3 separate regions of the Homo sapiens genome follow, and all the other regions are linked to region 3. Evidence: fine-mapped expression QTL. A gene starts in region 3. Each other region holds a variant in brackets. All regions are shown on one strand. Distances are between the middles of the regions.

Region 1 (5,000 bases), 53 kb before region 3:
CTGATTATAAAAGAAATGTGTACTCATGCATAAAACCCCAAAAAACATAATTTAATATAAATAATTATAAAAATTAATCATAGTCCCCCAGCCCAACAATAAACCCCATTAATATTTTGGTCTGTTCCTTTCCAATCTTGGTGTTTTATGAAAGTGTGTGTAATAGGTACAGTTTTATATCCTTTTTTCCCCTCATATCGAATATAAAACTCAATTTGGCATAGTAAAGTTAGTGGGGGAAGTAAAGTCATTGTCAAGAGGGAGGGAACCACAGAGGTCAACCACTTTTTAAAATGTCTCCCCTTTTTTCATAAAGGATTTAAGGTAGCAGAGATCAATACAGTAATTTAAAGAACTCTGACTTATAAATAAAGTTGGTTATTGACTTAGAACTGATATTTCACTCACAGGTCTGTGAGTGAGGTCTGAGATATCTTCAGAAAGAAAGTTTCCTTTTAGAACTCTGAACTACTGCACTGCATATCTTTGATGCTAAACAAAAGAATTTTTTATCTCCAGTACAGTCAGTTTTAGTATTTCTGGGGGAGCTTGGGAGTAATAGCTCACTTAGAGAGTTTAATGAAAGTTTAGACTCTTCAAAACATTGCACATAATTGCCAAATTTTATTTGTTCTCTTGGGGAGTTTATAGGCCCCCTAAGCCCATGGACCTGTTAGAGAATATGTGTCTAGGAAGGTTTTCTGGAAAAACCATTTAGGTCCTTATTTGAGAGAATTCTCATTTCAGTAAATCAAGCTTTTCTCCTTTTTTTTTTTCTTTCTGATCCTGACAATGCTAACCTAGAAGCTGTTACTTGCTAACTGTTACTAACGTAAACTAAGGGGAAGAAAGGGAAAAAGGACTCCTACTTGGCATTGAGGAACATGTCAGTCTGACTAAATTAGCAGATTGAGTTTTAACAAAAAACTCTATAAGATTTTCTCTGACTCTATCAGCATAAGGCAGTAGAAAATCCAGTATTTCCTTGACAACTTGCTTATCCTTCCCTTATTAATTTCTTTTTTTTTTTTTTTTGCATGGACCATGCATGAAACTTACCTTATTAATTTCATAGTGCTATCAAATGCAGATCCTGTTTCATGTTTTCATCTCAGGGAAACACAAAACAACTGATTACTGTTGAGGCTGTGTTGAGTTCCATCTCGATACCTTTGGTTCGCAGGTTGTGTCCATTCATCAAAAACTAATTTCTCACCTTCTGCACTGTAGACCCAGTTTCATCTTCTGTACTGAGGTAGAACTTAGCAGCAAATCCACATGAAAAGCCTTTCTGTTTGATTGCAAAGCAACATGTACTTCTTTTAGAAGAGGGAATCTACCAGCTTGGCATGGTGGCTCATGCCTGTAATTCCAGCACTTTGGGAGGCTGAGGCGGACGAATCACCTGAGGTCAGGAGTTCGAGACCAGCCCGGCCAACATGGAGAAACCCCATCTCCACTAAAAATACAAAAATTAGCTGGGCGCGGTGGCAAATGCCTGAAGTCCCAGCTCGGGAGACTGAGGCAGGAGAATCGCTTGAACCTGGGAGGCAGAGATTGCAGTGAGCCAAGATTGCGCCACTTACTCCGGCCTGGGTGACAGCGAGACTCCGTCTCAAAAAAAAAAAAAAAGGGAATCTGTCTCCTAATTTTTTTTTCTTCCTTTCTTCAGCCTGTCCTCATTAAAAAAAAAAAAAAAATCTCTGTATATGCTTGTGTCATCACTTGAGCTTTGCAAGTGGTTATTTTTATCATTTCTGGCACCTTAAGTTTTCATGTCGTTGATAATATTTGAAATTTATACATATATCAAGCAGATTTTTAACATCCAATAAATTGTTCCTAAATAGCTTCAGCTTTTTAGCTATTTGCCCTATAAGCCCAAATGTCTGGCTCCCTTCTTATTCTCCAGATTTATGGTACTTATCAGAAAAATGTAATTGACCATAGACCATTAAACATGATAATGAAAAATCTAACCTAGGTTATACTT[T/C]ATCTGGGAACTTAATTCCTTTAAATATGATAATTATTTGTTGTGAAGGGAAGCAGTAAAAAAATGTTAAAATCTCAGTTCTAGGGTTAGAGTCATCATCATTGTCATCATCATTATTGTCATCATCATCATGTTATATTTTGCAAGGGAGAGGATTAACTGTCAAATTTAATTTTAATTTTATTTAATTTAATTTTATTTTATTTTATTATTTATTTTCAAGACAGAGTCTCACTCTGTCGCCCAGGCTGGAGTGCAATGGCGCGATCTCAGCTCACTGCAACCTCTGCCTCCGGGTTCAAGAAATTCTTCTGCTCCAGCCTCCCAAGTAGCTGGGATTACAGGTGTGTGCCACCATGCCCAGCTAATTTTTATATTTTTAGTAGAGATAGGGTTTCACTATGTTGGTCAGGCTGGTCTCAAACTCCTGACCTCAGGTGATCCACCTGCCTCGGCCTCCCAAAGTGCTGGGATTACAGATGTGAGCACTGCGCCCGACCCAACTCTCAAATTTTAAACAAAAGATTAAATAATAATTAGAGTTGAAAATTATTGAGCTCTCACTCATATTAAGTTCCAGGTCTAGTCACTTTATATGAAATAACTCATTTATATTTCCCAACAACCCAATCATACAGACATTACCATTATTTCCACTGGGAGATAATAAGGCACAGAGAGGAAACTGAAGGACAGAGAGGTTAAATCAATTGTTGAAAGTGAGATTTGAACTTGGGGAGTGTAGGTTCACAGCCCATATTCTTAGCCTCTGTGTTCCCAGGTTATATCCGCTTTTGTGATAGAAAATATCTTTCATTAATTAAGTTTTCCTCTTTCCCTTTTTGTTCGATATGAAAGAAGAAAATAAAGTTAAAGTTGGACTCTTTTTATAATCTGGACCAGTGTAACTATCACAGCCAACCTAGACAAACATGTTTGAGTATCGTAATGCTTACAAAATGATATTTCCTATAAAAAAAAGAAAACCCCAAATGGACAATGGCACAAACATGGTAGAAGTTAACGTTTCACTCTAAAAACCCCAAATGGGTATTTTTGATCAGGGAACTCTTTCTAAGTGGCGATTTGTGAACCCAGGGTCCTTCCAGCTAGTGCCTCTACTGCCCTCAAGTGGCATCTCCAGTTGCCATGTCTGTGTGCACTGGGCAGGCAAAAGGAGCTTGGCAGATTGTGTGTCAGTTATAGCACGTCTGGACCGTCACTTCTGTTTGCTTTCATGGGCTGGAGCTCCATGCATGGCCACAGCTAACCACAAGGGAGCCAGGAAACTGGCTATTTATCCAGGAAGCAGAGGAGATACTGAACAGCTTGCAGGTCTCTGCCACAATGTCTATTGATAACGTATGTCAGATGTCACAGAAGAAAATATGGTAGTTCTTAATGAGAATGCCATAGATTATTCTTAAAATTCATAGATGTATACAAATGTTAACAATCTTAATGGTATTTTAGGGATGCGGAAAAGGCAAATTTGTATCCATAAGTATGGTGTCATTTTTTTGTCTTTTAGGAATATGTGTTTTTAACCTTATTTTAAATTATTTTAATTTGTAGGGCCCTTTAAAAGGACGCAGAGTTGAAGGAATTCAATATGAAGACATTTCTAAACTTGCCTGAGTTTGAAAATTTGTTAACAATACATTAAAATCTTAAAGCATCAAATTGGTGTTCGCCAAGGCATTATGAGACTCTACTGTGTTAGGGTATATTCTTTTGTATAAAACAAACAGGTTTTTGAAAATATTACTGTATAGTTGTTCAGCTAAACTTTGAGAAGAATTTAATTATGTCTCATGAGGTATCAAACTATGTAATTTTGTCCTTGTTATTTTTGTTTCCTTTGTAATTTACTTGATGAGTTTATATCTTCATTAAAGAATGTTATTATAAAGTGTTTTATCTATGACAATTTAGAATCATGTAATTGGAGGAAATCCTTCATACACTCTATATTTTCAGTAGTAGAGTAGTAAAGTTGAACTCTAAGTGTGACTAAATTTTAAATGTCAAACTATAAATATAGAAGCAGCTTTATTGTGGTAATAATTCATATACCATACAGTTCACTCATTTAAAATATACATACAATTCAGTGGTTTTTAGTATTTTTGCAGAATTGTGCAGCCATCACCACTGTCTGATTTTAAAACACTTTCATACCCCAAAATGAAACCCTTTAATAGTCAATCGCTATTTTTCCCCTCTGCCCTAGCCCTAGACAGCCACTAATGTACTTTCTGTCTCTATGGATTTGCCCTTTCTGGACATTTCTTATAAATGGAATCATATAATATGTGATCTTTTATGACTGGCTTCTTACACTTAGCATCATGTTTTCAAGGTTTATCCATGCAGTAGCATGTAGGCGTGCTTCATTTGTTTTTATGGCTGCTTAATATTCCACTGTATGGATGTACCGTATTTTGTTTGTCCATTCATCAGCTGATAAACATTTAGATTGTTTCTACTTTTTGGCTATTGTGAATAATGCTGCCATGATCACCCATTTACAGGATTTTATGTGAACAGAAGCTTTCGCTTCTGCCAAACTCTTCCAGAGCAGCTATACCATTTTACAGTCCTACCAGCAATGTTGAACTATAGTTTTATTTGTTTTTAATTTTTTTACTTTTAGAGACATGGTCTCACTGTGTTGCCCAGGCTGCTGTCAAACTCCTGGGCTCAAGTGATCCTCCTGCCTCAGCCTCCCAAAGTGCTAGGATTGCAGGTGTGAGCCACAGCACCCTGCCTAACCATACAGTTTGAAATAAGTAGGGCAGTGTATTATTAGGGAATGCAAAAGACAGGAAACCCACATTTGCCTGTGCCAAAGGAAAAACGAAGGGATATTTGTAGTGCACATGACTGAAAGGAGCAGACGCTAGCTTCCAGGGCAGCGGGACCGGGTGTGAACAGCCTTCCCTGGGCTTCCGCTCTGTCTCTGGCTCCTGTGCTGGCTCTCTACATTTACATTCTTGAGCACTCT
Region 2 (11,029 bases), 130 kb before region 3:
TCCTGCCTCAGCCTCCCGAGTAGCTGGGACTACAGGCCCATGCCACCATGTCCAGCTAAATTTTGTATTTTTAGTAGAGACAGGATTTCACCCTGTTGGCCAGGCTGGTCTTGAACTCCTGACTTCAAGCAATTTGCCCACCTTGGCCTCCCAAAGTGCTGGGATCACAGGTGTGAGCCACCACGCCTGGCCAGATTTTTAAATTTTTTATAGAAACAAGGTCTCACTATGTTGTCCAGGCTGGTCTCAAATTCCTGGGCTCAAACGATCCTCCTGCCTTGGCCTCCCAAGTGCTGGGATTATAGGCATGAGCCATCACACTCAACCAAAGCTCTTTTCATTTTGATGCAAAAAAGAAAACTCCTCTCCATAGGTATTTTTGGTAACTGTAAGCAGTTGGAGAGCCAACAAAGTGTTTTATAATGTGGGATGTGTTAATTTTTTGTCTAATAGTTTCGTTTAGAGGATAAGGACAGTTCAGACAAGAGATAAAGGTTTAAACAAAGGAAGTGATGCAATAATATTTTGGAAATTTTTTAAGAAAGAAAATTAGCAGAATTAGAGATAGGGAATGAAGGAGAATGAGAGAAGAGGTCAATGCTAATTCTCATGTTTCTAGCTTAGGTGACTGAGTAGAGATGGTGCCACCAACTGAGATGGATAACACAGGTGTATTCGTGGTAAGAAAATGTGGAAATGGGCCGGGTGCAGTGGCTCACGCCTGTAATCCCAGCACTTTGGGAGGCCAAGGTGGGCAGATCACCCAAGGTCGGGAGTTCAAGACCAGTTTGACCAACATGGAGAAACCCCGTCTCTACTGAAAATACAAAATTAGCTGGGCTTGGTAGCTCATGCCTCTAATCCCAGGTACTCGGGAGGCTGAGACAGGAGAATCACTTGAACCAGGGAGCCGGAGGTTGTGCCATTGTACTCCAGCCTGGGCAACAAGAGCGAAACTCCGTCTCAAAAAAAAAAAAAAGAAAGAAAAAAGAAAACGTGGAAATGGCCAACTGCAACTGGTTGCAGGGTCTGAGAGGTGGATGTAGAGGGACAGTTTGGGGAGGCATCAGCATACAGATGGGGGTTCAAACTATGAGAGTAGGAAAGTCAACTCTGAAACTAAGTAACGTGAGAAACATAGTAGGTGAAGGATAAAATTTTAGAAGCACCAATGTTTTAGCAGTAGGAGAGCCAGGGAAGACGTGCCCAAGAAAGGCCCCAAGATGGAGCTCATCATATAAGGAGAGTTAAGGGAGTATGATGGCGCTGAAGAAAAGCAGCTTCAGGAATTGCCCAACAGTGATGAAAGCAGCAAAAAGCTTCAATAAGGGGAATCCTGGGAAGAAAGTGGTAGCTGGGGCAAGGTAGTTTGTGCATCTTCCCAACATAACCAGGTGACAGAGTACACCCATCAGTGCCAAAATACATGCAGGTGACAACATGCCACCAAGCGCCATGAGACCCGAGTATGAGGCATCTATGCAAGGGAAACAGTGAGAAGCAACGGGAAGACTGACCTGAAACAGGAAAACCCCAAAAGGGCCACCAGGCCTCTGCTGGAAAGCCCGGCAGGCCAACCCGAGAAGAGCGGCTGAGGCTGGGAAGGATGGGACCACTTCCAGTACAGGGAGTACAAGGGGCTGAGTGAGATCCAATGGGGCTAGAAGTTGAGCCCAGGAGCTCTCAGACTTGACCCTGGCTGCTCTCTGCCAGGACAGAGCCTCGCTGAGAGGACACAGCTGGCAGTGGAATCACAGCTGGCCAGAAAAAGGAAAACTGACATGAAGGGAAGAGAAGATCCAGGTAAAAGTGGTGGAGGAAAACAAACAAAAAATCTCAGTGAGCAAGTTCCCATATTTGGAACATTCCGCAAAAACGATAGAAGAGGGAGCACTGCAAAGTCAGAGGAGCTACCCTGAATCTCCTTCTAAAGCAAGCTTGTC[A/CA]ACCCACAGCCCATGGGCCATATGCGGCCCAGGACGGCTTTGAATGCAGCCCAACACAAAGTTGTAAACTTTCTTAAAACATTATGACTTTTTTGTGTGTGACTTTTTTTTCTAGCTCAGCAGCTATCGATGGTGTTAGTGTATTTTATGTGTGGCCAAAGACAATCCTTCTTCTTCCAGTGTGACCCAGGGAAGCCAAAAGATTGGACACCTGTGTTCTAAAGGCTCAGAAAACTAACTCACATATAGTTTCTATAAAGAAGAGAAGACTAAATAGCAAAACATCCCTCCAGACAATGAAAGTACGAGAGAAACACACACTCGAAAAAACTGATGAACCTATAATGTTCTATCTTGAAATGATCTAAAAGACATGAAAGTATATAAATCAAAATCAGAAAAAACTCAGAAATTAGGTAGCAGAACTCAAGACAGTAGCTATATGATCTGACAAGATACACACGGTAAAATGAAAGAAAATTGGTTTCATAGGACAGAATGAGCAAAAAAAATTTTTTTTACCTGTTTCAGTAATCATGAATGATAGTATCAGTTGCAATATTGTACGTGTAATCTGGGATAAAGCAAATGAATAATTATGGAATATTCTAATTTTATCATCTTCTTTATTCCTGAGAACCAGAATTCTCAGTATGGATGACAGTATTTATGGATGTAACATAAAAAATAAAAACCTTGTAGTCCTAAATATGAATTGGAAAATCTGCATGAACTCAGGAGGAACCCTATCCACCTATCTATCTATTCACACACATCTACATGTATATAAATATTTATTTACTTATTGCCTAGAAACAATGAACAACCGAGTTATATATAATAAGTATCCCTTAGCACCGAGACTGTGTACTTGAAATGCTATTTCCCAGCGTGGAGACAACTGGATATCCATATGCAGAAGAATGAAATTGGATCCTTATCTCATACCACTTAGAAAAATCAACTCAAAATGGAATAAAGACCTAAATGTAAGACTTGAAACTACAAAACTGCTAAAAGAAAACATAGGGGAAAAACTGTAAGACACTGGTCTGGGCAATTATTTTTTATATTTGGCCCCAAAAGCGCAGGGTGACAAAAGCAAAACTGAACAAATGGGATTCCATCAAAATAAAAAGCTTTGGCACAATAAAGGAAACAGCAGAGTGAAGGCACAACCTGTGGGTGAGGAGGAAAACACGTGCACCCACACATCTGACAAGGGGCTCACGCCCAAAACATGTAAGCAACTCAACAACAACAAGAGCCACAACCACCACCAAAAAAAAAGGCAAAATATATAAGGAACCCAAACAACTCTATAGAAAGAACAGTCTGGCTGTTGTCCTGTGCCGGAGGACAGCAGGCAGCCATGGTGCCCAGCGGGAATGGCAAGATCTTGAAGCCCCACTTCCACACGCACTGTGCAGCGGCTGAAGGGGTACCGCTCCAAACTCATCCTCTTCCCCAGGAAGCCCTCGGTCCCCAGGAAGGGAGACAGTTCTGCTGAAGAACTGCAATTGGCCACCCAGCTGACAGGACCAGTCATGCCCATCCAGAATGTCTATGAGAAGGAGAAAGCTCAAGTCACCACTGAGGAGAAGAATTTCAGAGCCTTTGCTAGTTGCTGCATGGCCCGTGCCAATGCCTGGCTCCTCCACATATGGACAAAAAGAGACATGGAAGCTACAGAACAGGATGTTGAAAAGAAAAACTGAAGCCCTCTTGGGGACTTGTAATAAATCAGCAGTATTGCTGGGTCCCCAAAAAAGGAAAAAAGAAAACCCTACAGAAAGAAATAATCCAATAAAAAATGAATAGACATTCCTCAAAATAAGACATACAAACTGCCAACAAATACATGAAAAAATGTTCAACATTACTAATCATTACAGAAATAAAACCACAGTGAGATATTACCTCACACCTGTTAGAATGGCTGCTATAAAAAAGATGAAAGGTAACAAGTGTTAGCAGGGATGTGGAGAAAAGGGGGAATCCTTGTACACTGTTGGTGGGAATTTAGATTAGTAGTCATGGAAAACTATGTGGAGTTTCCTCCAAAAACTCAAAATAGAATTACCATATAATCCAGCAACCCCACTCCTGAGTATTTACCCAAAAGATTTGAAAAGATTATGTGGAAGAGATTCTGCTCTCCCAAGTTCACTGCAGCACTGTTCCCAATAGCCAAGTTACAGAAATAACCTAAGTGTCCATTAACAGATGAGTGGATAAAGAAAATGTAATATATATACACCACAGAATACTATTCAGCCTTTAATAGCACCACAGGGTGACTAAAGTCAACAATAATTTATTGAACATTTTATCTCGAACTCCTGGCCTCAAATCATCCTCCTGCCTCAGACTCCCAAAGTGACAAGATTACAAGTGTGAGCTACTGCACCCTGTACATTTAAAAATAACTAAAAGAGTATAACTGGAATATCTGTAGCACAAAGAAATGATAAATGCTGGGCCAGGTGCAGTGGCTCATGCCTGTAATCCCAGCACTTTGGGAGGCTGAGGTGGGCAGATCACTTGAGGCCAGGGGTTTCAGACCAGCCTGGCCAACATGGTGAAATCGCATCTCTACTAAAAACACAAAAATTAGCCGGGTGTGGTGGTGGGCACCTGTAATCCCAACTACTGGGGAGGGTGGGGCACAAGAATCACTTAAACTTGAACCTAGGAGATGGAGCTTGCAGTGAGCTGAGATCACACCACTGCACTCCAGCCTGGGTGACAGTGCGAGACTGTCTCAAAAATAAATAAATAAATAAGAAAGAAATGATAAATGCTTCAGGTGGTAAATATCCAATTTAGTCTGATGTAATTACTACACATTGTGGTGTGCTTTTATTAAAATTCTTATGTACTCCATAAATATTTATACTTACTGTGTACCCATAAAAATTAAAAAGTATTATTATTCAGCCTTTAAAAAAAGAAGGAAATTTTGTCATTTGTGACAACATAGATGGAATTCAAACAATTCTGCTAAGTGAAGTAAGCCAGGCACAGAAGGAGACATACCACATGTTCTCACTTATATGTGGACGAAAAGAACCAAATTCCAAGAAGCAGAGAGTAGAACAGTGGTTACAGAGGCTGGGGCAGGGGATGTGGGGATGTGGGGATACAGAGATGATAGGCAAAGGGTACAAAGCCTCAATCTGACAGGAGGAGTACTTTTTTTGATACATTGCACAGCATGGTGAAAAAGAAAAATAATAATGTATTACACATTTGAAAATCATTAAGAGAGTAAGTTTTAAATGTTCTCTCCACAAAAAACGATAGGCATTTGAGGTGACAGGTATGTTAACTAGCTTGACTTAATTATTCCACATTGTATTTATAAAACATAACATCGCTTTGCACCCCCCAGATATATACAAATGTAACCTGAAATTTTATAATTAAAAAAAATTAAAATTAAAAAAAGAAAAGAAATACTACTTTCCAAGAAACCAGGGTTTCCTGGACAGATAATTTATACCAAGCATAGAACATGACTATACATGCTGAGTCTAGAACATTTTGATATACCAGAAGGTGAGGACGTCACCAAAGCCAATTCGGGTCATGTGTCAAAAGGACTCAGAAGCAAGAGTGAAGAAGCTGCCACTGGCCAAAGATGCAACAATTAAAGCTACAATATGGGTAAAAAACTGTAATGAGGCCGGGCACGGTAGCTCACTCCTGTAATCCCAGCACTTTGGGAGGCCGAGGCAGGAGGATCACAAGATCAGGAGATCAAGACCAGCCTGGCCAACATGGTGAAACCTCGCCTCTACTAAAAATACAAAAATTAGCCGGGCGTGGTGGCACATGCCTGTAATCCCAGCTACTGGAGAGGCTGAGGCAGGAGAATCCCTTGAACCTGGGAGGCAGAGGTTGCAGTGAGCCAAGATTGAGCCACTGCACTCCAGCCTCGGCGATGGAGTGAGACTCCATCTCAAAAAAAAAAAGTAATGAATGAAATCCGTCAAGTATGTTTAAATCTGTGAGTTCACAATGATAGAGTATTAAATGAAACTAGTCACCTGCTAAGGATAACAAGGAACCAATTTATTCTCATGAAAACTGGGAATATACCATATGAAAAAAATCAAGCGTTAACCCTGCTTTCCCTATATAAACTATGCCATTAAGTTACTAAATAGTGGATGAGGAAAAGGATTTTCTTATAAAGTTATTTCAACTAAAGAATGAAATAAAAACAAAGTGATAGTATTATCATTACTTTGTAACCCCTAATGAATTAATGGATCTAGGCACTGAGCATCAGCACTGCTAACACCAACAAAAGTGAAAACTGGACATCATCAGCTGATATCTTGCCAAACCTAAATCTGGTCAAGCCTCAGATTCTTGCTGCCAATTTTGAGAAACACATTGAGCTGCATTATGAGTGCACAATGCGCAACATCCAACTGTGGGGCACTCTGCAGATCAAACAACCCAGATTTCTAACAAATAAACTGTAAGACAAAGAAAGGAATGGAAGGAGAGTCACAAACTAAAAGGTAAATGACATGGTTGGGCGGGGTGGCTCACGCCTGGAATCCCAGCACTTTGGGAGGCCGAGGCTGGCGGATCACTTGAGGTCAGGAGTTCCAGACCAGCCTGGCCAACATGGTGAAACCCCGTCTCTACTAAAAATACAAAAATTAGCCAGCCACAGTGGCATGCACCTGTAATTGCAGCTACTCGGGAGGCTGAGGCAGGAGAATCGCTTGAACCCAGGAGGTGGAGTTTGCAGTGAGCCGAGATTGCGCCACTGCACTCCAGCCTGGGTGACAGAGCAAGACTCCTTCTCAAAAAAAAAAAAAAAAAAAAAAAAAAAAGACATGTAAAGTGAAAAAGGTGTGCATGTGTGAAGAACATTAAATTAATGTGTCTAGGGATACGCATTTGGCTGATAAAACTATAAAGCTAAGGAGTAATTCCTACAAAGTCAGGACAGTGGTTGGTTATTTTTGGAGGGAGGGAGGAAGGGGTGGGGTGGGGTTGGGCACATAGAAGCTATTCTGAGATAGCTGGTAAAGTTCTGTTTCTTGAACTGGGAGAAAGGGTTTAAATTTCCTTCAGATCAACCATTTAGATAGTAATTGGTGTTCACAGCAAGAACTGCTTCAAGAAAAGGATGGCAGGAGCTTGAGAAAGAAATGGCAGGTACTGAAGTGGACATAGATTCTTGAGTCCAAGGAGTGCAAAAGGTCACACGGGAAGATGCAGAGGAGCCCCATCTGCCAACTAGGTTATTCTTGGGAAGGGGGAGGAAGGGAAGTGAAGAGACACTTCCATTTCATAACGAATTCACTTGGCAATATATTTTTTCAGCAAGTTTGTATTACTTTTGTTAATTTTTTCAAACATGTAAATGTTTACTTTTAAAGGGTTTAATAATAAAAATAGAAATCTTAGTGGGGAAAGAGAGAAATCCCCATGCAGAAGAGTTCCTAACAACATATGCAGATATTCCACCTTCAAAGCGGGACGCATAACTCCCATTCCTTAAGGGCGGGCTACGCACAGTGACTTCTTTCCAAAGAGCACAGTAGGGGAAGAGGGGATAGAAGAGAAACTTTACTGTGAAGAAACCAGATAAACACTACCCCAGCCATGTGATCACCATCAATATCAACAGTGATAAATTATGATGACAGGATAGACCTTTGATATGATGTCATAAAAATGGCCCTTGACCTCTGTGGTCTTTCTCCCCAAGATCTCATAACCCCAGTCTAATCATGAGGAAAACATCAGAAAAATTCCACTAGAGGGGCATCCGACAATATACCTAACCAATAATCCTCAAAACTGTCAAGGTCGTCAAAAACAAGAAAAGTCTGAAAAACTGTCACAGCCAAGAAAAGTCTAAGGAGACGTGACAACCAAACACAATATGATATCCTGGATGGGATCCAGAAACAGAAAAAGGACATCCAGTAAAAACTAAGGAATGTCAATACAGTGCGGGCGTCACTTAATAATAACATGTCAATATTGTTCATTAATTGTGATACACGTACCATAGTCACGTAAAAGGTTAATAACAGAAGAAATGGTTCAGATGTGAGTGAACTCTCCAAACTAACTTCTCAATTTTTTCTGTAAATCAAAACTGTTCTAAAAAATAGTCTATTTTAAATTTTAAAAAATAGAAACTCTAAAAGTGGCAACCTCACAGTATCTTTACCAAGTTTAAGTTGAGCTTGGTAAGTTTCCTGCAATAAGTCAGGGTACATGGTTTATATTCCTTTTTTTTTTTTTTTTTTTTTTTTTTTTGAGACGGAGTCTCACTCTGTCACCCAGGCTGGAGTGCAGTGGCACGATCTCGGCTGACTGCAACCTCTGCCTCCCGGATTCAAGTGATTCTCCCATCTCAGCCTCCCGAGTAGCTGGGACTACAGGCACCACCACACCCAGCTAATTTTTGTATTTTCAGTAGAGGCAGGGTTTCACCATGTTGGCCAGGCTCGTCTTGAACTCCTGACCTCAAGTGATCCGCCCACCTCGGCCTCCCAAAGTGCTGGGATTACAGGTGTGAGCCACTGCGCCCAGCCTATATTTCTTTCTTATGCAAATATTTTGAACCAATCAACAGACCCCCCCAGAAGACCCCCATTGACCAGTGATCTAGAGACCACACTGTGAGAACCAACAATGACTTTGGCATAGTACGCTGTACTATTTTCAGACATTCCTCAGCACAATAAAATAGGAAGCAAAAAAATATGGTATTGGTGTGAATCTGAAAATATGTATGGCAAGCTGGGGAGAGAATGTTCTTGGATAAAACACACTGGGTACCAGCCATCAGAACTGTAACAGTCCAAGCAAAAATATGCATGTATAAAATATTTTCAAAGAGGTCTCACTTCTAAACATATAATCAGATAAAGCAGGCAATAACTCCTTCCACATCATCTCCTCATCTGTCATCTTCACACTGCGGATAATCACACAGCTCCTCAGTCAAGTACCTATCCAGCCCAGCTAGTAAGTCTGTTCCCTCAGATCCTCAGCACGTGATGGTAACACTACTTTACATTGATTCGTCTCTTTTTTTCAGAGACAGGGTCCTGCTATGTTGCCCAGGCTGAAGTGCAGTGGGCATTCACAGGCTCAATCATTGCGCACTACAGCCTCAAACTCCTGGGCTCAAGCGATCTTCCTGCCTTGGCCTTCCAAGTAGCTAGGACTATGGGTGTGCCACTGAATGCAGCTTGACACCGATTCCCCTTATAGCGTGACTTCACTAATGTATATTGTATTTCAATTCAAAAGTAAATTATTTAAGAGCAAGAAAAGAAAAAGGGGACGAGAACTAATATTCGCTGTCATGTGTTTTATTTTTTTTTGAGACAGGGTCTCGCTGTCACTCAGGCTGGAGTGCTGTGGTGTGATCATAGCTCACTGCAGCCTTGACCCCTGGGCTCAACTGATCCTCCCACCACAGACTCTGATAGCTGGGACTACAAGCGTGCACCACCATGCCCAGCTAAGTTTTTGTTTTTGTTTTTTTTTTTTTTTTTGAGACAGAGTCTCGCTCCGTCACCCAGGCTGGAGTACAGTGGCACAATCTCGGCTCACTGCAAGCTCCACCTCCTCTGTTCACGCCATTCTCCTGCCTCAGCCTCCCGAGTAGCTGGGACTACAGGCACCCGCCACCACGCCCAGCTAATATTTGTATCTTTAGTAGAGACGGGGTTTCACTGTGTTAGCCAGGATGGTCTCGATCTCCTGACCTCGTGATCCGCCCGTCTCCGCCTCCCAAAGTGCTGGGATTACAGGCGTGAGCCACTGCGCCCAGCCAAGTTTTTTATTTTTAGTAGAGATGAGGTCTCATGACGTTGCCCAGGCTGGTATCAAACTCCTGGGCTCAAGCTTCAGCCTCCCAAAGTGCATAAGCCATCACACCTGGCCCACTGTTATGTATTTTATATGTTAAACACTGTCCAATTTTATATAAATGTGTTAACAAAAAAAAATTACTTGATTCTCCATTTCCCCAATGTGGTAGGTGTTATTACACTTATTTTACAGATGAATATAAAGTTCAGAAAGGTAAAGTGACTTGGGAAGACCAGAAACTCAGTGACTCGCTGAGTCATGTCTCAGTGATGCCGTGAGGTCCACGCTGTGCCTCTCACAGCCTGCTGCCCCTTCAGGCCTTCTATGTGTGCACACTCGCCAGCTCCAGCTGCTGTGGAGGGAGACTTTCACAGGCTTTTTTGACATGAACCAAGCTGAGTGGCTGATAAGAGGGAACCCCATGGAAGGACCTTGCTAATAATATTTTAAGACCAAAGTCTGGCCTGTCTGTGGCTCTTAAGGAAATAAAAGGAAAATAAAGAGCATGGTGAACAGCATCATTATCAAAGGGGTTCACCTCTGTACCTCACTTTGCACCACTAATCAGAATACCAGGAACTTTCTAACATGCTGTACCCATGAAAAAAAAATATTTCAGATTGTAAATGACAAGAAATGGTCTTGTATGGTTATATTTTTAAATGGTAACCAAAGAATTGCATTTTATATCCTTTTCTTATGAAGAGGAGAACGTTTTGACAAGCATCTTACTGTACTGCCTACCACTTACTGCATCCTTATAAACCATATGCATATATTACAAATCAGCAATATTTTTCCTTCTTAATCCACATGTGTTAGATAAAAAGTGAAAAGTAGTGTTCTCAAGATTTGTTATTTTCCTTTTAAAATGTTTATAATTTATATTGTTTGCATAAAACTAAATGAGTTTCTTTTTTTGCTTCAAATAACCCAGAAAAGAAACCCAAAAATCTATAGTAATATAGTAATTTCAGCCAGAAGTCAGTATCAAAACAACACAAAACAAAACAAAAAAAACACTAAATTGTTTTTCATACTTCTTCACTACCTAATCTAAACCTGTTATCTTAGTTACATTTCCTTGCTAGTATTTAAATATGATAACCATAGCACTTTAAGAGAATTTTATTATGGAATATTTGCATGCTATAAAAATAAGACAAGAAGGACCAAATAGTTAAGTGTAGATTATGATCAAAGTCCTAGTTTTGGTT
Region 3 (5,000 bases):
GACATGGTGAGGTCAATGGTTGACCTCTTCTTGTAGACTTCTTGAATGCAATGCTCAATGACAAATTTTTCTCTCTTGTGGCTAAATAAATTGTGACATGAAGTCTTGCTTATTGGATTTTAATATTATTAGTCTACAAAAAAAAATCCTGGATTTTCAGAAAGTAAAAAATTCACACCCATACAAAATAAGACATTGATCAGCTTAGGGTTGCTGCTTCCGTAAATACCTCCTCTCTCAGCATGTGGGCTCCGTGGGGAAGAAGCCAAGCCCTTCCTGGTGTTCTGGAAAACTCACCCCCTTAATTAGAGGGTTTTGTCTATACTGCTGCTGGTGGCCGCCAGGATTGCAACTTCCAATGTGGCCAATTCTCCTTCTCAGGTGCCCTCAGAGTGACCAGAGGAAGGAGATTGTGAGGCTGCAAGGGGGAGTGTCTGTCATCGCTAAAATAAGAAAAGTCTTCCTAACAGGAAATCCTTCCGGCAAGGCAGGAAATAATTTCGGAATCTTAAGTTTTGAAGAAAACACATAGCCATGTATTCTTTTTTTTTTTTTTTTTTTTAAATGGAGTGGGGACAGCGTCTCCCTCTGTTGCCCAGGCTGGTGCAATCATAGCTCACTGCAGCCTCGAACTCTTGGGTTCAAGTGATCCTCCATCTCAGCTTCTCAAATAGCTGGGATTACAGGTGCATGCCAGCTAATATATATATTAGCTGGGTGGCAGAGGTAGAGCCTCACTATGTTACCCAGGCTGATCTGGAACTCCTGGCCTCAAGTGATCCTCCCTCCTTGGCCTCTGAAAATGCTGTGATTATAAGTGGGAGCCACTGTGCTGAGTCGTGTACTCTTTAAGGGACTAAATTGAGCATTATGGTGTGAAGGCTGCTGAGCAGTTGTGTGAGTTTCTCTTTTTATTTCACCTGGGTGATCTCTTCCACCAAGGTGTAAGAAGTCTGGACTCTTCTGTGCTAAAAAACAAACTCTTAAGAAAATCTAGCAGAAGGCATCTTAACACTTGTCTTCTTCTGCCATAATCTCTTTCACTTTTTTTCCCCCTTTTGGGAGTAAACCTTACTATACCTGATATCTCCGGTTCTCTGCCACCAATTGAAATTTGCCTGGGGCCAGTTCCACAAGATCTTCATAGTCTACAAACTTAAAAAAAATTAGGATTTTAACTTTTTTTTTTTTAATTATACTGTAAGTTCTGGGGTACATGTGCACAACGTGCAGATTTGTTACATAGGTATACATGTGCCATGTTGGTTTGCTACACCCATTAACTCATCATTTACGTCAGGTATTTCTCCTAATGCTATCCCTCCCCTAGCCCCCCACCCCCTGACAGGCCCCAGTGTGTGATGTTCCCCTTCCTGTGTCCATGTGTTCTCGTTGTTCGACTCCCACTTATGAGTGAGAACATGCGGTGTTGGGTTTTCCCTTCTTGTGTTACTTTGCTGAGAATGATGATTTCCAAAAGATCTAGAGCCAAAGAGATAGCTGTTGGTATTCATTATTTTATATTCTTTCCTCTACCTCTGGGCAATCACAATTTTGTATAAAATGATTTCTTTAGTATATTTCTATTTGCTGGTTACGTCTCAGAGGTGTCCAAATGGAGGGTAACAACACCTTCGCATTTGTTGGACATGGGAATTCATTTTTGAGTTTGCCAGCAGGTGGTAAGACAGAGATCAAAACAACCCAGTGATTAGGTGGGTGTCTGGGGAAGTATCTGGGTAGACCCTGGAGGCATTTGCAGTGTCTGACTGGACAGACATGAACCATACATCTCCCCAAGTTAAAAATGTAGGTATTTTCTAAAAGGAAATGCCAGTTAGAAATGACTGAAAAAGCACAAACACATTTGGATGTCTTGGCTTCAATTTGAGATTTCTAACACACTCTGGTGGCTTTTAAGTGTTGGAAAATATGATAGTTTCAAAGCAGACAGAGTGATATTTTCCCTTTGTAAATATGCCGTCATATTCTCTGGCATTTTTATAGGTAATCCACTCTGCAAGTATTATAAGCCTTTGCATTTGCTGGGATGTTCCCATAACATGCTTCGCTTTTCTGGCATAAAAATAGCTCTTGTATGACTTTCAGAAACAGACTTTCAGTCCAAGACTTTCCTTACATTGGAGATGGCTAAGGGACAAAAGTGGAGACCTGTACTCCATGGGAATTATTCTTGTACTTTTCCACCCTGCCTGCTATCTTCCGCTTTAATAGGAATACTTAAAGTGCTCTTATTACAAATATCACTGTTCACTTAGATATGAAAAACAGTGTGCTTTGATAATGACTTTTCTTATACTCTTAGTAAAAGAGTGATAATATTTCTTCATCATCATAACAGCTAGTAATTATTAAGCACTTACTAGTCCAGGCGCTCTGCTAGAAGAGTTTACACTGTGTCATTTAATTCTCAAAGCAAACCATTGGGTTAGGTCTATTCTTACCCCCAATTTTTTAGGTGAGGAGTGAGCAGCTCTGCTCCATAAATGCTACGCTCTGATGCCTGCCCATTGATCTTGACTTAATTTTCATGCAAAACCTGTTAATGCTTTAAAAGGTAAATATACATTCCAGTAATTATAACAGTAAACACTTGCACTCAGATGAATTTTATCTTAAGTTTCCATTACACACAGAATAAGGCCATTGAATAGCGATTCCAATAGATGATTTACTGAGCTCATGAACAAGCCAACAGCAAGGAGTGATCTGTAAGTACTTACTTCAGAAAGTCCATTTATGGGGATTTCGAAGCCTGATACTTCAGAAAGAAAGAAGCAGATGAAAAAGCACGTGAGTCTTTTCATTTTGCTGGACAGTTTTGCCAAGCTCCCCAAAGCAGATGGTCTGGGGAGGATATCACTTCTTCCTACTGAACCAAGTTCAAAGGAACAGCAGAGGAGTACAGTTCGCTTTAAGAAAGAAGAAAAAAGAAGAAAAAACTCTCTAACTTTGTTCAAAATTGGGACAAATATTTGTTCTGGAGCTCAAACTTGAGCTGTGTGGGTGGATCGAACACCCAGAGGTTATTCAAACAGCAAAGTCAGAAGCAGTTGCTTACTGTGAGGACAAGTCAGGGGCAGATGGATGTGCTTGAATGTGCTTGTGTGCTTTTATTTTATTTTTATTTTTTATTTTTTGGCTTTTGCTGATTTCTATTGATCTTAAAATCAGAGAGACCTACAGATAATTGTCATCCTTTCTAAAGGACCAAGTGCAGAACTATTCCAAGAAACAAAATCCTTTGATCTAAATGAAAGCAGGAAAAATTTAGAAAAAGTGGGAGAAGACACAGAAGGGTTTTTCTGAGCAAAGAATTCATTGTGCATGTTTTCCCCTATCTCTTTGATGACTGTCTACCTGTTACCTATAAAGACCCAGGCAAGTGGCTGTGCAGGATACTAGGGCAGATCTTCAGTGAGAATGCTTCGTGAATGTCTTTGATTAAGGTAACAGTGTCTGTCCTGCTGCCCCTATCAGCCGGGCTCAGGTCAGTGGCAAATCAATACTCCCCAGTCTCAGAATTGGAGTGCAGTGGTGAGATCAAAGCTCATTGCAGCCTCAACTTCCCCCGGCTCAAGCAATCTGCCCACCTCAGCCTCCAGAGTAGCTGGACTACAGGTGTGCACTACACTGCCTGGCTATTTTTTGTAGAGATGGGATTTCATCATGTTGCTCATCCTGGTCTTGAACACCTGGGCTCAAGCTATCTGCTTGCCTCAGCCTCCGAAACTGCTGGGATTCCAGATGTGAGCCCCCATGCCTAGCCTCCATCCTGGTCAGATTCTATTTTTCTTGCAACAAACAGGAAATGTAACTTCTTGGATGCAACACTGAAATAGGAAGCTCCAGCTGTGGGCAGAATTACAATACAAGGGAGGTTGTCTTATCCTCAGGACCAAGCACCCCAGGCCAACTTCTGGGATCCTGGAGCTCCTTGCTACATTTAAAGCCCAATTCACAGGGCATGCAACAGAGAGTTTTCTGCATTTTCCTCCCTAGTTTCCCCTCAGTCTTCGAAATTGCACAGCCGTGTGTCTGCTGGAGAAACATAACTTCTGAAATAATGGAAGGGAGAAAACAGATTCTCCCCTCCCTTGCCTAGGTTGGACTAGTTGAGCGCCCACCTTGGCCAGTGAGTGCCTCAGTGGACCCCTCATGGAAAAATCCTGCCACAGCTTTGCATTCTTGACTGAGATACTGTTTCTGGAGAATTAAGACCCAATGGCAGCTGGGCGCGGTGGCTCACACTTGTAATCCCAGCACTTTGGGAGACTGAGGCGGGTGGATGACCTGAGGTCAGGAGTTTGAGACCAGCCTGGCCAACATAGTGCAACCCCGTCTCTACTAAAAATACAAAAATTAGCCAGGTGTGGTGGCATGCGCCTGTAATCCCAGCTACTTGGGAGGCTGAGGCATGAGAATTGCTTGAACTGGGGAGGCGGAGGTTAGAGTGAGCTGAGATCACGCCACTGCATTCCACCTGGGCAACAGGGCAAGACTTGGTCTCAAAAGAAAAAAATAAATAAATAATAAAAAACCCAATGGCATGTTCTCCCAAAAACAGCAGTGACTTTCAAAATCATACCTCCTTCCATTGATCATTTCCTTTCTGATTATTTTAATCTGATATTCAGAATTATCTCAGAATAAACCAAACCAAAAGCAGGCTGGACTTTTTTCCATGCTGATACTCTGTCTTCAGATCCCAAAGTCCTTTTTTTTTTTTTTTTTTGAGAGGGAGCGTCACTCTGTGGCTCAGACTCAAGCGCAATGGCATGATCTTGGCTTACTGCAACCTCCACCTCCCAGGTTCACGCGATTCCCCTGCCTGAACCTCCCAAGTAGCTGGAATTACGGGCGTGCACCACCACAACTAACTTTGTATTATTTTTTTTAAAGTAAAGATGGGGTTTCACCATATTGGTCAGGCTGGTCTCAAACTCCTGACCTCGAGTAATCCACCTGCCTCAGCCTCC

Alleles and levels. Positions count from the first base shown, and alleles are read on the strand shown. Sizes are in standard deviations (SD) of each study's normalised expression. Not every link is listed here.
As copies of CA replace A in region 2, the expression in subcutaneous fat of the gene that starts at base 2,947 in region 3 goes down (moderate effect, 0.58 SD a copy in GTEx).

What was found.
Region 1: its variant is fine-mapped to the expression of ITIH2 in sun-exposed skin (GTEx, PIP 0.91).
Region 2: its variant is fine-mapped to the expression of ITIH2 in subcutaneous fat (GTEx, PIP 0.97).

The regions. Positions count from the first base shown.
Region 1 is chr10:7,754,711-7,759,710 of GRCh38, reverse strand. It overlaps KIN (Kin17 DNA and RNA binding protein), which reads left to right. Exons shown (of 13, transcript NM_012311.4): 13 at 3,569-5,000. The coding sequence ends at 3,631. Among named protein-coding and RNA genes, the nearest start is that of KIN, 31 kb to the left of the region's middle. The variant T/C (reference allele first, on the strand shown) is at 1,994.
Region 2 is chr10:7,826,244-7,837,272 of GRCh38, reverse strand. All of the region lies in intron 2 of TAF3 (TATA-box binding protein associated factor 3), which reads right to left. Among named protein-coding and RNA genes, the nearest start is that of TAF3, 13 kb to the right of the region's middle. The variant A/CA (reference allele first, on the strand shown) is at 1,944.
Region 3 is chr10:7,701,263-7,706,262 of GRCh38, reverse strand. ITIH2 (inter-alpha-trypsin inhibitor heavy chain 2) reads right to left here and starts at 2,947. Exons shown (of 21, transcript NM_002216.3): 1 at 2,745-2,947; 2 at 1,081-1,155. The coding sequence starts at 2,828.